Linked DNA regions of Homo sapiens. The protein of the gene in region 2 interacts with the protein of the main gene of each other region in a pairwise test. Each region holds a gene or a part of one and is shown on either strand. Other genes may lie near its edges.

Region 1 (7,681 bases), on a different chromosome or scaffold from region 2:
AGGAAGTAGCAGAGTTGGAATGGCTGGTCTCTAAAGGCTCCTTATAATCCTAAAAGTCCCTGGCTTAACCATTTGAAAGAATGATTTAAATCTTTATTCAAAAGCAGTTCATGTTGTGGAGAAATTGGAGCCTCCATACAGTGTTGGTGGGAATGTAAAATGGTACAGCTGATTTGGAAAACAGTCTGGCAGCTCCTCAAAAGCTTAAACAGTTATTATATAACCCAGCAATTCCACTCCTGGGTATATACCAAAAAAACCTGAAAACATGTCCACACAAAAACTTGTATACAAATGTTCACAGAAGCATTATACATAATCTCCAAAAGTAGAACGAACCCAAACATCCATCAGTTGAAGAATGAATAAATATTGTCTGTCTAGACAGTAAATTACTATTCAACAATAAAAAGAGATGAAGTACTGATATGATGTGACAAGACAGATTAACTTTGAAAACATTATGCTTAACGAAAGAAGCCAATCACAAAAAAACCCACACATTTTATGATTTCATTTATAAGAAATATCCAGCATAGGCAAATCTATAAAGACAAAGTAGATGAGTAGCTGCCTCAGGGTGGTTGTTAGGAAATGGGGAGTGACTACTAAGTATGAGAGTATGAGATTTCTCATGGAGTATGACATTTCTATTCTTTATTTCGGTAAAATATACATAACAAATTTCACCATTTCAACCATTTTTAACTGTGCAATTCAGTGGCATTAAGTCCATTTACAACATTATACAACCATCACCACTATCCATTTCTAAAACTCATTCATGGCCAGGCATGGTGGCTCACACCTGTAGTCCTAGCACTTTGGGAGGCCGAGGCGGGCGGATCACCTGGGGTCAGGAGTTCCTGACCAGCCTGGCCAACATGGCAAAACCCTGTCTCTACTAAAAATACAAAATTAGCTGGGCATGGTGGTGTATGCCTGTAATCCCAACTACTCAGGGAGCTGAGGCAGGACAATCACCTGAGCCCGAGAGGCAGAGACTGCAGTGAGCAGTCTCAAATTCCAGGCCTCAAGCGATCCTCCCATCTAGACCTCCCAAAGTGCTAGGATTACAGGTGCAGGCCACCGTGCCCATCCTCTGGGGGATTTTTAATTAAAGGATCATAAACATCTGCCAAAGCTATGAAACAGGCCTTCTGTGGACAGGCGCGGTGGCTCACGCCTGTAATCCCAGCACTTTGGGAGGCAGAGGTGGGTGGATCACAAAGTCAGGAGTTAAGCCTGGCCAATATTGTGAAACCGCGTCTCTACTAAAAATACAAAAATTAGCTGGGCATGGTGGTGGGAGCCTGTAGTCCCAGCTACTCGGGAGGCTGAGGCAGGAGAATCACTTGAACCCAGCAGGCAGAGGTTGCAGTGAGCCAAGACTGCGCCACTGAACTCCAGCCTGAGTGATAGAGTGAGACTCCATCTCAAAAAAAAAAAAAAAGGAAAGAAAAGAAAAGAAACAGTCCTCTTACGGTAATGAGGGTCACCTGAAAGTTTCTAGGTAAAGGCAGTGTATGCCCCAGGAAGGGCTGAGGAGTTCCAGATGTTACTGCTGTGAGCTCAGGGGCTCGCCACTGACCAGTCCCTTGACTTGCATCTTGAAAAATCAGAACTCACTTTGCGGCTCTAGCTTCTGGATGATGGGCAGAGCACTGGTCATGGCCACGGAGGTGATGGTCTTCACACCGTTCTCTGCCATCTCACACACAGACTTCAGGTAGGGATACTGGTCCTTTGTACTGAGATAGGCTGAGGACATGAGGTCATACGTGGAGCTCACCAAGGGCAGGTTGACCACCCGAGTCACCACACTCTGCAATCAAAGTAGGGAGGGTATGCTTATTAATCTCTCAAAACACAAAAGGAGAGAAAGTAGACAAAGGCTACTCAAAATTCATACCGGTTGTGGATCAACTGCAACGGATGCCATTTTTCTTCCTGGAGAAAGAAATCTGCAGAAAAGAGACTTATTTCAGAACACCGGGATAAGACTCTCCCAAATTCATTCCCCAACCCAAGCAAATGCTGATTACAAGTAGAGAAAAATGCAGGGTGAGCTCCCTGTAGTCTTCTGCACTTCTTTCCTCTCTCCAGCTCTCCAGGTCCCCCTCCTGAAAGACCCACACCCACACAACCCCACTCCCTCTTTTGAGGCAAAGTTTCAGAGCTTATGTGTAAACTTGCAATACTCAGGAGGGAGAAGTAAAGTTGTTGACATACTTCTCTTGTTTCTCCGAGTATCTGTTAACAAAAATGCTAGCCAAGCCGGACGCGGTGGCTCACGCCTGTAATCCCAGCACTTTGGGAGGCCGAGGGGGGTGGACTGCTTGATGTCAGGAGTTCAAGACCAGCCTGACCAACGTGGTGAAACCCCGTCTCTTCTAAAAATACAAAAATTAGCCGGGCGTGGTGGCGGGCGCCTGTTATCCCAGCTGCTCTGGAGGCTGAGGCAGGAGAATCGCTTGAACCCGGGAGGCGGAGGTTGCAGTGAGCCTAGATGGCGTCACTGCACTCCAGCCTGGGCGACAGAGCGAGACTCCGTCAAAAAAAAAATGCGGTTTTCTAACGCGTTTCCCTTTCGATAATGTCCCTTCGACAAATATTGTTTTCCCACAACCACCCAAGCAGGCCAAGGGACATTCGATAGCAATCGCCCTAAATCTGTTGGCAGGAAAGAAGCCTCAACGCACAAAGGCAAGGGTCGAAAGCGCGGGTTCAGCAGACCGCCCCTACCCAGCCAGGACCTGGAAGCCGCGAGGCGAGCGGGGGGTCTCGGACCATCACCCCCGCGTCCCGTCCACCTTTGAGCCCCGCGGGGAGCAGAGCAGCGGTCCCAAGGCCCCGGGGAGCCCCCCACCCCAACTGGGCGCCGCTGGGGGCCCGGGACCGGTTCGCTGGGGCACCCACTGGGCGCGCACTCACCGACGGACTGCAGCGAAAGGCGAAGAGCAGGCGCGTCCCGAAGACGACTCCGGCTGCCACGACCCGGTCAAAGCGTGGGGCCCGCGGGCGCCCGGGCTATAAACCCCGCCTCGCCGCCCCTCCCCAAGCCTCCGCAGCACGTGACCCGCGGCAGCACGCCCTGTCCCAAGCCCGAGTGTCACCCTCGGGCACGTCCCGGCGCCCTCCCCCAACGCCGGCCCTCCTAGAGTGGTGGGGGCCCGGTCGGGTTGAGAGGGTGTGCTGCCTGGGCGAGGGGCCCCGCCACGGGGAGAGGAGCCTGTCGGGAGCCGGGCGGGGGCCCGGCCTGGGGAGGCTGGGAGTTGGAGGTAGCCCTGCCTGGAGTCGGGGCGCTGCCTGGAGTCGGGGCGCTGCCTGTGGTCGGGGTCCTGCCTGTGGTCGGGGTCCTGAGAGGCCCGGGGCAAATGGGGATGGCGCCCAGGCCGGCTTTGGGGTTTTGAAAAATGCAAACAAATTCACACCAACTTGTTGAACGGCGTTAGTCCTCAGAATAGAACTCTAAAAATGGAAGCGGTGGCTCACGCCTGTAATCACAACACTTTGGGATGCTGAGGCGAGAGGATCTGTCGAGCCTAGGAGTTCGAGACCAGCCTGGCGAAGATTTTTATTTTATTTTAAAAAATAGCCCAGCGTGGTGTCGTGCGCCTGTGGCCCCAGCTACCTGCGAGGCTAAGATGGGAGGATCGCTTGAGCCTGGGAGGTCGAGGCTGCAGTGAGCCGAGATCGCGTGGCGCTGCACAATGGCTTCTACGCTGTTATTTTTAGCGAAGTAATAACTTTTAAAAGTTTTGTGGCGGCTGGGCGCGGTGGCTCACGCCTGTAATCCTAGCACTTTGGGAGGCCGAGGCGAGCGAATCACCAGCCTGGCCAACATGGCGAAACCCCGTCTCTCTCAAAATACAAAGAAAGCAGCCCAGCGTGGTGGCGCGCGCCTGTAGTCCCAGCTAGTCCCGGCTGTTTAGCGGGGTTGGGGGCAGGCGGGTGGGTGGCTGAGGTGAAAGAATCTTTTGAGCCCAGGTGGTCGAGGCTGCAATGAGTCGAGATCGCGCCACTGTACCACTGCACCCCAGCCTGAGTGACTGAGACCCTGTCTAAAAAAAAAAAAAGAAAAGAAAAAAGAAAAAGAAAACAAAAAACTTAACTCCAGATCACTCCAGAATGACAGCTGCCTAGGGTTATGTGACATAGGCAACTTTATACGTGCAGGGTTATGCATTGTTTTTCAAAGACAACTTAAAACGTCATCTGAGTCCCAGTTGTGTTTTTTTGTTGTTGTTGTTTTGTTTGTTTGTTTCTTGTGTAAAACGCACAGATTTGGAACGAGATTATTTGAGCAGACAAGTTGCGCCAGCGCCCGAGGCCAGATAGGGCTCGTGGGACTTCTTCCCCCGTGAGTGGCGGGGGATTTCCAGATGAAGCTGTCCGGCCTCGGCCCCCACTCCCCCCCCCCGGCCCCCGACACAGCTCGCAGGGAGGATACAGCAGAGAGGAGGGTTGGGAGGTGGGAAGGGAGCAGGCGCTGGCGCCGCGGGTCCGCCCCCTGAGAGGCCCACAGCGTTGGAGTCCCTGGCTCCAGCCAGGAGGGACTGGCTTTGTGAAGCTTTGGAGTTGTAACTGTAGGAAGCTCTCAGAGACTTTTACCCCAATTTGTTTTCATTTTCTGTTGTTGTTGTTGTTGTTGTTGTTTTTTGAGACGGAGTCTCGCTCTGTCGCCAGGCTGGAGTGCAGTGGCGCGATCTTGGCTCACTGCAACCCCAGCCTCCCGGGTTCAAGTGATTCTCTTGCCTCAGCCTCCCGAGTAGCTGGGACTACAAGCGCGGGCCACCACGCCCAGCTAATTTTTGTATTTTTAGTAGAGACGGGGTTTCACCATGTTGGCCAGGATGGTCTCGATCGCTTGACCTCGTGATCCGCCCGCCTTGGCCTCCCAAAGTGCTGGGATTACAGGCGTGAGCCACCGCACTCGGTCTAACCCAGTTTCTTAACCAATCTTGCATGCACACAGATACTGTTGATCATATTTAAAGCTCCAAACGGACCCATTAAAATGGTATCCCTTATCCCATTATACCTGAATATATAATAGTACTTACTTAGCAAGAAAAATTAAAGTATTTTTACCCCTCCTCCCCACATGTAATTCAAAATAAAATACTAAGCCATAAATACTGAACCATAAAATGTTATGAAGTCCAAAAATGTTCTGGTTTGGGTTTTTTCCTATGTTGCCATCTTCAGTGTTTTAAGTAATTAAATTATTATGTTTTTCTTTTCTTTTTCGTGTTCCGGCGCTGTTTGTTCCCTAAGCAAATGTTTGCTCTGCTTATTGATAATCCATCCCTGCTCTAATGACCTCTTACTTTGCATCAGAAGACTCTCGCCCTTTCACCTACAAAATGCCTCCATCTTTTCCTTTTTTGTTTTAAACCTGTGAGTCATTTCCTCACTTAAGGCTGAGCAAGCTTCTTTTTGCTTTTATTTGCCTGTGAAGCAGAGGGCCCCAGGGAATAATTTTGGGAACAAGAGACTCTTCAAGCCCACAAAGGATGAAGCACATCAAATTCTGCATCCCCAACTGTTTTTCAGCTTCGTGAGTCTGAGAACATGAAACCAGTGGCAAGAATAACACCCAAGGTGAGATGTGTAGTGAAGGAAACCAAAAAATTTTACCCCAAAATATACTTCTTTCACATATTTTGAGATATGGCTGTTCAGAGGACCTGCAGGCGGAAGTAGTCCTACGAAGCTGTTTGGTGTGTGTGTGTGTGTGTGTGTGTGTGTGTGTGTGTGTGTGTGTGTGTGTGAGAGAGGCTTGCAATATACAGAGAAAATCTGCATTGATGCAGCCAGGTGCTCTCTGAGGTTTTCCCTCGTCCAGATATAGGAAAGGTTAATGGACAGTCTGACACCTTTAAAGGTCTGAAAGAAACATCAACCATCTATTCTTTCCAATGGCTACTACCTGTGAGGTTTCATCTACATGAGCGGTCCCCAACCTTTTTGGCACCAGGGATAGGTTTCATGGAAGACAATTTTTCCATGGACCAGGGCAGGGGGATGGTTTTCAGGATGAAACTGTTCCACCTTAAATCATCGGCATTAGATTCTCATAAGGAGCCGCAACCTAGATCCCTTGCATGTGCAGTTCACAGCGGCGTTCTTGCTCCTAAGAGAACCTAATACCAGCTGCTGACCTGACAAGAGGCAGAGCTCAGGCGGTATTGCTCACTCACCCGCCACTCACCTCTTGCTGTGCGGCCCTATTCCTAACAGGAATGTAAATGGCCACAGTGTAAATGGCCCAAAGTTTGGGGACCCCAATCTACATAATGAAATGACTTTTGCTAGCCAAGTTTCCATTTCTGTCTTGCCACTAAATCCTGATTTACCACCATTCTCTGAGCCCCCAAACTTTCTGTAACCTCAGGAGGGGTATATAAGCTTCTGAGCCCACTGAGAGGTGGAGTAATTACTCTGTGGTTCCCCCACATGCCCAATAATACATTTACGTCTTTTTATAATAATACATGTATATCTTTTGACCTGTTAATTTGCTTTCCGCCAGTTGATTTTTCAGTGAACCTCCAGAGGACAAAGGAGACGTTTTTCCTTGGCCCCTGCAGTAGGTTGCCATTAGATAGGGTGTGTACAGTGTGGCAGTCCTGGGGAGTGGCAGGACATTACCAAGGATTTGGCCAACCTGAGATTCCTGGAGGTTTTCAGGGTTTTGTTTGGTTCCCTCCAGGATTCGATTTACCGTCATTCAGCATCTGGCTCCTGTCTCTTTCTCACCAGCTTCTTCTCCGGACTTTACCTGTGTGAAAGGAAAATAAATCTTGGGACCCCAAAATCACTGAACCAAAGGGAAAAGTCAAGCTGGGGACTGTGTCACACAAACCTCCTATTCAAAGATAAGCTACATAAGCCAGGCGCAGTGGTTCATGCCTGTAATCTCAGCCCTTTGGGAGGCTGAGGCAGGCGATCACTTGAACCCAGGAGTTTGAGACCAGCCTGGGCAACATGGTGAAATCCCGTCTCTACAGAAAATACAAAAGTTAGCCGGGTGTGGTGGCATGCGCCTGTAGTCCTACTTGCTGGGCTGAGGTGGAAGGATCATTTGAGCCTGGGTGGTCAAGGCTGCAGTTGGGGACCGCTATAATGGAGACACTGCACTCCAGCCTGGATAACAGAGTGAGACTCTGTCTCAAAAGAAAACAAAACAAAAAAGCTACATACCTCCCTCATAATTTGCCCACTAGGAAATTCCTTGTGGGCCCCAAGATCTTTACCCTAAAAAGTTCTGTTGAATTTCATCCTCACAATGTAAATTGATAGCTTATATTCACAGATGTGGGACATAGGACAGAACACAATAGCATCCCTCTGCTCACCTGAGACAAATTAATATTTGATTGCTCCCTCTGGCCTATGTTTATTTTATCTTATTTAAAAATGCAGATTCACTGAGCTAGATGAATGCGTGACTATTCCTCTACCCCCCCATCTCACATGTCAATGGCTAATCAAAGACTCAAAGGAATGCAACCATTTGCCTCTTACTGGCCCACACCCCTTAACAATTTCTCCTCTCCCCAGTATCCACTCCTTTCCCCTTTAGATATTGAAACCCTCAAAATCATCTTTGGAGAAAGGCACAGACCTGTCTCCCATGTGTGTGTCCTTACCCTTGGCAAAATAAACTTCTAAA
Region 2 (7,020 bases):
CTTTCTTAGTTTTGTAGAGAGCAAGTTTACCCAAGTATATGGAATAGAAGTTCATTATCATGTTAAAAATCCATGTAATAACTGGGCGTGGTAGCTCATGCCTGTAATCCCAGCACTTTGGGAGGCCGAGGCAGGTGGATCACCTGAGGTCAGGAGTTCAAGACTAGCCTGGTCAACATGGCGAAACCCCATCTCTACTAAAAATACAAAAATTAGCTGGGTATGGTGGCAGGTGCCTGTAATCCCAGCTACTTGGGAGGCTGAGGCAGGAGAATTGCTTGAACCCAGGAGGCAGAGGTTGCAGTGAGCTGAGATTGTGCCACTGCACTCCAGCTTGGGTAACAGAGCAAGGCTCCATCTCAAAAAAAAAAAAAAATTCATGAAAGATGGCTAATTATCCCTTCCTAAGGATATATCCAGTTATGGTCACTTACTCCTGAATCATTCAAATGCACAAACAAATTCATTAGTGGTAAAGAGAATGAAAAACAGGCATGTACAAACATCTGCACCTACATACAAAAATAACACATGAATATGAATGGTACTACCTAATCCACTCCTTTAAGTAGAATCAGCAGAACAAAATTGCACAATAAGTACCACTACTTAGAACTACACCCACAGATACCTTGGAATGCCCTGATGGTACAAGTTTGGGTAAATTTTAGTGCTCATAAGAAGGAAAAAAAAGGGGCTTCCACACCACTATAAATATAGAATCCTAGAATGCTAGAACTAGAAGGAATTCTATGGACCCATTCATTTTATAAGAATCCTACCCCTTCATTTTATAAGAAATGAGAAGCTGAGCAAAGTGACTTGTCCAAGATCTTGTAACCACCTAGTGGCAGATCTGGGCCTAGACCAAGTTACCTGGGTCCAGTCTAGTACTTCCACTATACAAGGCTGCTTGCTCTGAAACACCTAGAATCTGTTCTCAAAGCATAGTCTCAAGCAGAGTCAGGGGGGGTGTCCCTGAGACTCTTCGAGGAGATCCAGGAAGTCAAAACTATTTTCATCATAATACTAAGACTTTCTATTTTTCACTCTCATTCTCTAATAGGTATAAAGTAGTCTTCCAGAAGTCACATATGTGATTACCCATCAGACTGAAAGCAGAAGCAGCAACCTTATGTCAAGCTAGACATTAAAGACATTTGTAAACATGTAAACAATGTTTGGAAAGTATTTTTTTTCTTTTTTTGGTACAAATTTTATTTATTTTAATCTGTAATGGGTTTACTATTATTTTTAAAGAAATTAATAAATTAACATTTTTGATTATTCAATTTTAATTTCTAATTGTATTAGAAATGATAAATATTGATAATAAGCCCATAAACAAATCTCCTTGGGGTCCTTACTAATTTAAGAGTATAACAGGGGCCCAAGACCAAAAAGTTTTAGAACTCCTACCTGCCAGCCCCCGACATTCATTTCTGTACTTTCTAATGACAAGGAAAAGGAAAAAAGTTATTTTGCCAACAATGAACACACCACAGAATCTTACCTCCAGTTTCAGGGCAATGAGATATATTGGACCTATCTTAGTACACAGCTCATTTAACTTACAAGAAGAAAGCCTTACATTTTAACATCTTCTCTTCAGCTTCTTTAAGGTGTGATATAGACGTAGGGCACCATGTGGGGAGCCAACCAGTTAGCCATCCTGACCTAGAGCACCAAAAACAAAATAACAAATAGGTGAGTTCATGCTCTTCTCAACTACCAATTGTCACATGCACAGAAGAAAGGCAGCACAGGAAATTTACTACCTGTGTGATGGTAAAGCTATGTGTGACAAAAGTGACCTAACATGCACAAAGCATGGTGGTAAGTACTGGGATACAGATATTCAACTTCAGCCTGTGTACTTACAAGTAGATCTCAAAGTCCATCTTATTCATGGATAGTCAGATTCCAAATAAGCAAAAAGAGGATAAAATGGGAAGAACAAGAAAACACAAAAAATGCATTCCTCCCCACTGCAAGACAGCCTCTTATTGGGGTAGAAGTGCAAAAAAAGTTAAAGACCAGGAGTAGATTCATTTGAATGACAGTTTCACAGTGAATATAAAAGGTACCTCTATGGGGGTTGAGAAAAGGGGCACCTTATTAAAATCTGAGATCGACCATTTTTTGGGGAAAAAGAAGGCTTCAAATCTCATATGAGTAGTAACATACCCCTAACACAAATGTGGGAGGCTGGTCTGCGTACAATCTCCTTAGGGTGAACTGGTTAACTGTTAATAGAAGTACAAAAAAGCTTTGGGTTTCAGCAAACAGTAGATGAACAGAACGACCAAAGCATCCATCAGAAGACAGCACAACAAAGAACAAGGAAGCAGATCTGAGGCAGCTAGTGAGGAAAGGCATGGGGAGGCTGCAGTTGACATACTTTGCTTGTAGCCAACAAAAGAGAGGGTAAGCCTCAACTCCTGGCCTGGCAGTCACAAACCAAAAGCTTACTGTAATAACCTGACATAATGCAGAGCTTCAGTAGTCATTTGACAGTTAGCAAGGGCTCGGTGCATGGCTGGTATTATTTAAAATGAGAACTTTCTGATGAAAAAGAAATGAATTAGAAGAGGAAAAGTGAACTACTGCAGAGTCCAGATGAGAGGTAAGGGCCCAATCCAAGGCTTTGGCAACAGGGATAGAGACAAGAAGATGTAGTCAAAGAATATTTAAAAGGAAAACAGGTTGGATTTGATAACTGGTTGGAGATAAAGAAGTTATAATAAGGATTCCCAGGCGTCTCTCTTAGGTTACCACTATAATGACAGACAACACAAGAGTAAGAATAGGTGTGAGAGGAAAATGTGCTAAGTTTTGGAAGGGTTGTGTACCAACATCTAGCTTTTCTTACCTTTGTAGGTTCATCCTACTATATTTCCCTTCCCTGTAGAATTTATCTGGATATTACGTATAACAGGTACTCAATCAATAATGTTTGCTGAGTGATTAAGTCACTCACAATCCAGGGGATTCTCAGTCCAAATTATCCCCATTTCATAGATGTAAAAACTGAAGTTCAGAAATGTTAAGCACCAAGTCCAAGGGTATACAGCTAGTAAGTAAGTAAGTTTGATTCTGAGCCACTCCAAAGTGCTTTTTTCTCAAATGACTACCTTCCTTAAAATGTCTGAAGGGTTGCCCATTACCTACAGGATAAGTCTATATTTTCCTGGACCTGCACAGAAGGTACTTTGCAATCCATCCACAGCCTACCTCCATCCCATCTTTTCTTTTCATATATTGTACTTTTTCCAGTACTTCATATCTCTCAAAATTTCATATGATTACATGTCTCTATGGCTTTGCACAGCTCTTATAAATTACCCAGTCTCAGGTAGTTCTTTATAGCAGCATGAGAATGGACTAATACACAGGCCATTAAAATAAAAGAACTCATGATTTTTAGAGGTTAAAGGTGAAGCTCTTTTGTCCTTGACCAGCCATTAGGTCTATATTTAACCATAAAAATATGAACTAGTACCAACAAGAAATTACTTACAACTCAATCTCATCCATTGTCTTAAACAAACATCCCTCGAACCATATCACAATTATTTGCCAGAGAGAATCAGAGGTCAATTAAAAAAAATTACAGTGAAATGAAGTATAAGCTACTATTGCTCCAGTTGATATCACAGACAAACTGGGGCAAAGAAAACACAAATGCATTCTTTGCATTAAAAAAGGATACTTTTTTAAAAAACGACACTCAAAAAATAATTCAGACACTGAATACCTACTATGTACAAAGCACCAGTGTTTAAAAAGTTACATACCAGCCTGTAATGGAAGAATCATGCCTACCTCCACCAACTTACCACTTACCACAAAACCAGCTTTCAAACAATGGGACTGTCTGTCCATGGATTTGCCTTCTAGTGACCAGCTCAACTCAGAGAAGGGGCAAAACATGTTTTCATGTTTGTAAGCTTACATTAAAAAGTAGGGATCTTCAACCATAAGAAGAGGCACCAACTCTCTTCAGGTTTTCACAGAAGCATTTTCATCAAAACAGGTGATTTTTTAAAGTGGGTTTTTTTCTAACAGAAAAATATATATTTAACAAAACATAGCAAGATATTTTTACTCTTAATGGAATTGTAAAGATAGCACTCTTCCCCTAAGCCCTGATAATGCTTCTGTCCAGTTTCACTTTAACCAGATGATTAAATGTTTTACAGAAACTATCCTCTGCTTCTTTGAGACACTCTACAGGATTAAGTGTTATATACATAATAGGCTTCAAGGAACATTTCCAATGAGTAAAAAGCAAGGGCCTTATCTTTTCCACCCTTTAGTTGATTCCTGTTTGTTCAAAGGTCTCATACCTTACCTTGCAACCTCTATTGCTTCAACCCTTTAAAACTTACCCATCCAACTCTACCTCCTGTCTTCGGGATAAATTAATCTCACCTTCAAAGAGACCCTTTGCCCCCTCCCCAGTGGTATCCTATGCCATTCAGTGTTGCTCAGCATTCCTAGGTTTAGTATATAGAAGACTGGAACTAAGGACACAGGACTGAAGCTTGTCAGATATTCTGCCATTCTTCTGAGGTCACAAAATTCAAGGCAAAAATTAAATTCACACAGCCCACCTATAAAACAGTAAACTAGATTCAATGCCTCTTCCTCATAGCTTTGGAAAATAAATAGAAAAGCAAAACCTAACTTCTCTATTTTATTTAAGGAGACAAGCAATAAACACTATCATCCATCACTGAGGCCTAAATTCAACAGTGACCAAAGTGTCAACTGTAATACAAAGAGAAGTCATTCACCACAGGAACTATAGCTTTCTAATAGTAAGCATCTATGACATGGGGAAAGCTTACCAATGCAAGCCAAAAAGTTTTCTACACAGCCCCATCAGTTGGGCACTTACCTTATTAGCAAGGCAAAGGATATAAGCCCTAAAGCATCTAATCACAGAAACAAAAACAAAAAAAGAAAGGATTCTTGTTTTACAACCATTGTAGTGCAAACTAAGAATCTTTTTAGTGAGCAGACTTTTGAGTAAGAAAAGTTATAAAAGATCACATCAGAGGTGACAATTCTAAGGAAAGCCAAGTAAGATGTGCTTAACATATTAATAGAGTATATTTTACCTAAGAATCTGACTTTAAGTATCCTGAGTGAGAGATAGACACCACTTTTTCCATTAACTTTTTACGTAATCCTTCTAAAAAAATATTATGTCATACTTATACTCCATACTATCAACACTTAAGTTTCCTGGTAATCTCTGTTTTGTTCTTTAACACATCTGTCTATCTACAGTATTACTAAACCTGAATTGCACAATCTATAAACATTATGAAACAGTGAAAGAGGTTTCGAAGTATTCTGAAGAAAATATGCAGAAATCTGGCCAGTTTCCATACACTCTTGGCCACTTAATATTTCTAATTAGGTTATAAGTAAAGAGGATTTCATTATATTAAAATTTTGTTTAAAATGGCCTCCATTCCTATTCTAGTAGTTGAGAGAGAAAAATCACATAAACTTATTGCTCTTGATAAACCTAAGCACAGCTCTCTATCTCATTTAAAGAAACCATGAGGCTTTGATTTTTATTATAAATATCCAAATGAATTACAGGTATGAATATATACATTTATTTATATTTACATTTATATTTATCTGAGATACTTCCTCAACCAATGACTAAAAACATCCAAATTGGAAATTATAACACTTGGGTAAATAAAGACCTTTCTTGGGAATTGACTTTTTAAATCCTATTCTTGGGAAAGAGAAAAAGAAAAGAAAAAAGCGTACTTTGGGAGGCTGAGGTGGGAGGATTGCTTGAGCTCAGTCAGGAGGTCAAGACCAGCTGCCTGGCACATGCCTGTAGTCCCAGCCGCCTGGCACATGCCTATAGTCCCAGCAACCTTGGGGGGGTGGAATACAGGGGCTGGGGGGCAAGTTGCTGAGGTGGCAGGATTGCTTGAGCCCAGGAGGTTGAGGCTGCAGTGAGCCATGATTGTGCCACTGCACTCCAGCCTGGGTGACAGAGCAAGAACCTGTCTCTGGAAAACAAACAAAAAAAAAAGAATATGGTCTCATACAGCTACAATTTAAGTGACTAACATGCCATTTTATTTTGGATAAATGATACTTAAGTGATTCAAATTATCACTATTAGATCAATGACAATCCAGGCCCTCTAATATATGTTAACACATTAATTAATACTGTTTTAACTGCCCCTCCCCCCCCAACCTGTAACTTTTAAAGACTCAGATTGGTAGTATAAGTGTTTTAGACAAGCCATGTGCTGGTAACACGTATCTCCCCATTGTTTCCTACCTTCCTTCACACAGTAAACAAACCATTTTAGAGTCACTTATATGACCTCATTATCAAACACACTTGAAGAAGCCACAGGTGTACTCTACTTAACAAGTCAGTGACATTTCTTTGCATCAGTTCTAAAATAAGTTCATTCACTAGATAATAAAGAGAATAAAACTAAAAATCCTAGGTCTCAACTGAATAATCAGTTTTAATAAAATCACCTCTCCATATGATTTTTTTTAGTAACTCACAATCAGGAGTGGGAATTACAGAACCATGAGATTAAACTAATAATCTAACAATTAGTCAAGGCAATGATTAAGCCAATATAATGTTTCAAGAGGAAGAACTGAGCTTTTTTTTTTTTTTTTTTTTTGAGACGGAGTCTTGCTCTGTCGCCCAGGCTGGAGTGCAGTGGCACGATCTCGGCTCACTGCAAGCTCCGCCTCCTGGGTTCACGCCATTCTCCTGCCTCAGCCTCCCGAGTAGCTGGGACTACAGGCGCCGCCACCTTGCCCGGCTAATTTTTTTGTATTTTTAATACAGACGGGGTTTCACGGTGTTACCCCAAAGTGCTAGGATTACAGGCGTGAACCACGGCGCCCGGCCAGAACTAAGCTTTTTATATCGTTTAGTTTAGGAGCAGGAAGGTAAAAATAAGATCATGGTCTGGACATGTTAAATTTGAGGAATCAGGCACAA

What was found. Proteins that work in one complex are often made in the same cells at the same time.
Region 1: the proteins of ABHD5 (region 2) and PLIN2 interact in binary tests that used the Homo sapiens proteins (3 or more experiments, as listed by UniProt).

The regions. Positions count from the first base shown.
Region 1 is NC_000009.12:19,124,485-19,132,165, forward strand, and holds the start of PLIN2 (perilipin-2), read right to left. Parts: upstream 3,009-7,681; 5' UTR 2,935-3,008; intron 1,965-2,934; 5' UTR 1,943-1,964; coding exon 1,913-1,942; exon of another isoform or gene 1,826-1,912; coding exon 1,630-1,825; intron 1-1,629. UniProt on the Homo sapiens protein: Structural component of lipid droplets, which is required for the formation and maintenance of lipid storage droplets.
Region 2 is NC_000003.12:43,693,933-43,700,952, reverse strand, and holds part of ABHD5 (1-acylglycerol-3-phosphate O-acyltransferase ABHD5), read right to left. Parts: intron 1,678-7,020; coding exon 1,592-1,677; intron 1-1,591. UniProt on the Homo sapiens protein: Coenzyme A-dependent lysophosphatidic acid acyltransferase that catalyzes the transfer of an acyl group on a lysophosphatidic acid.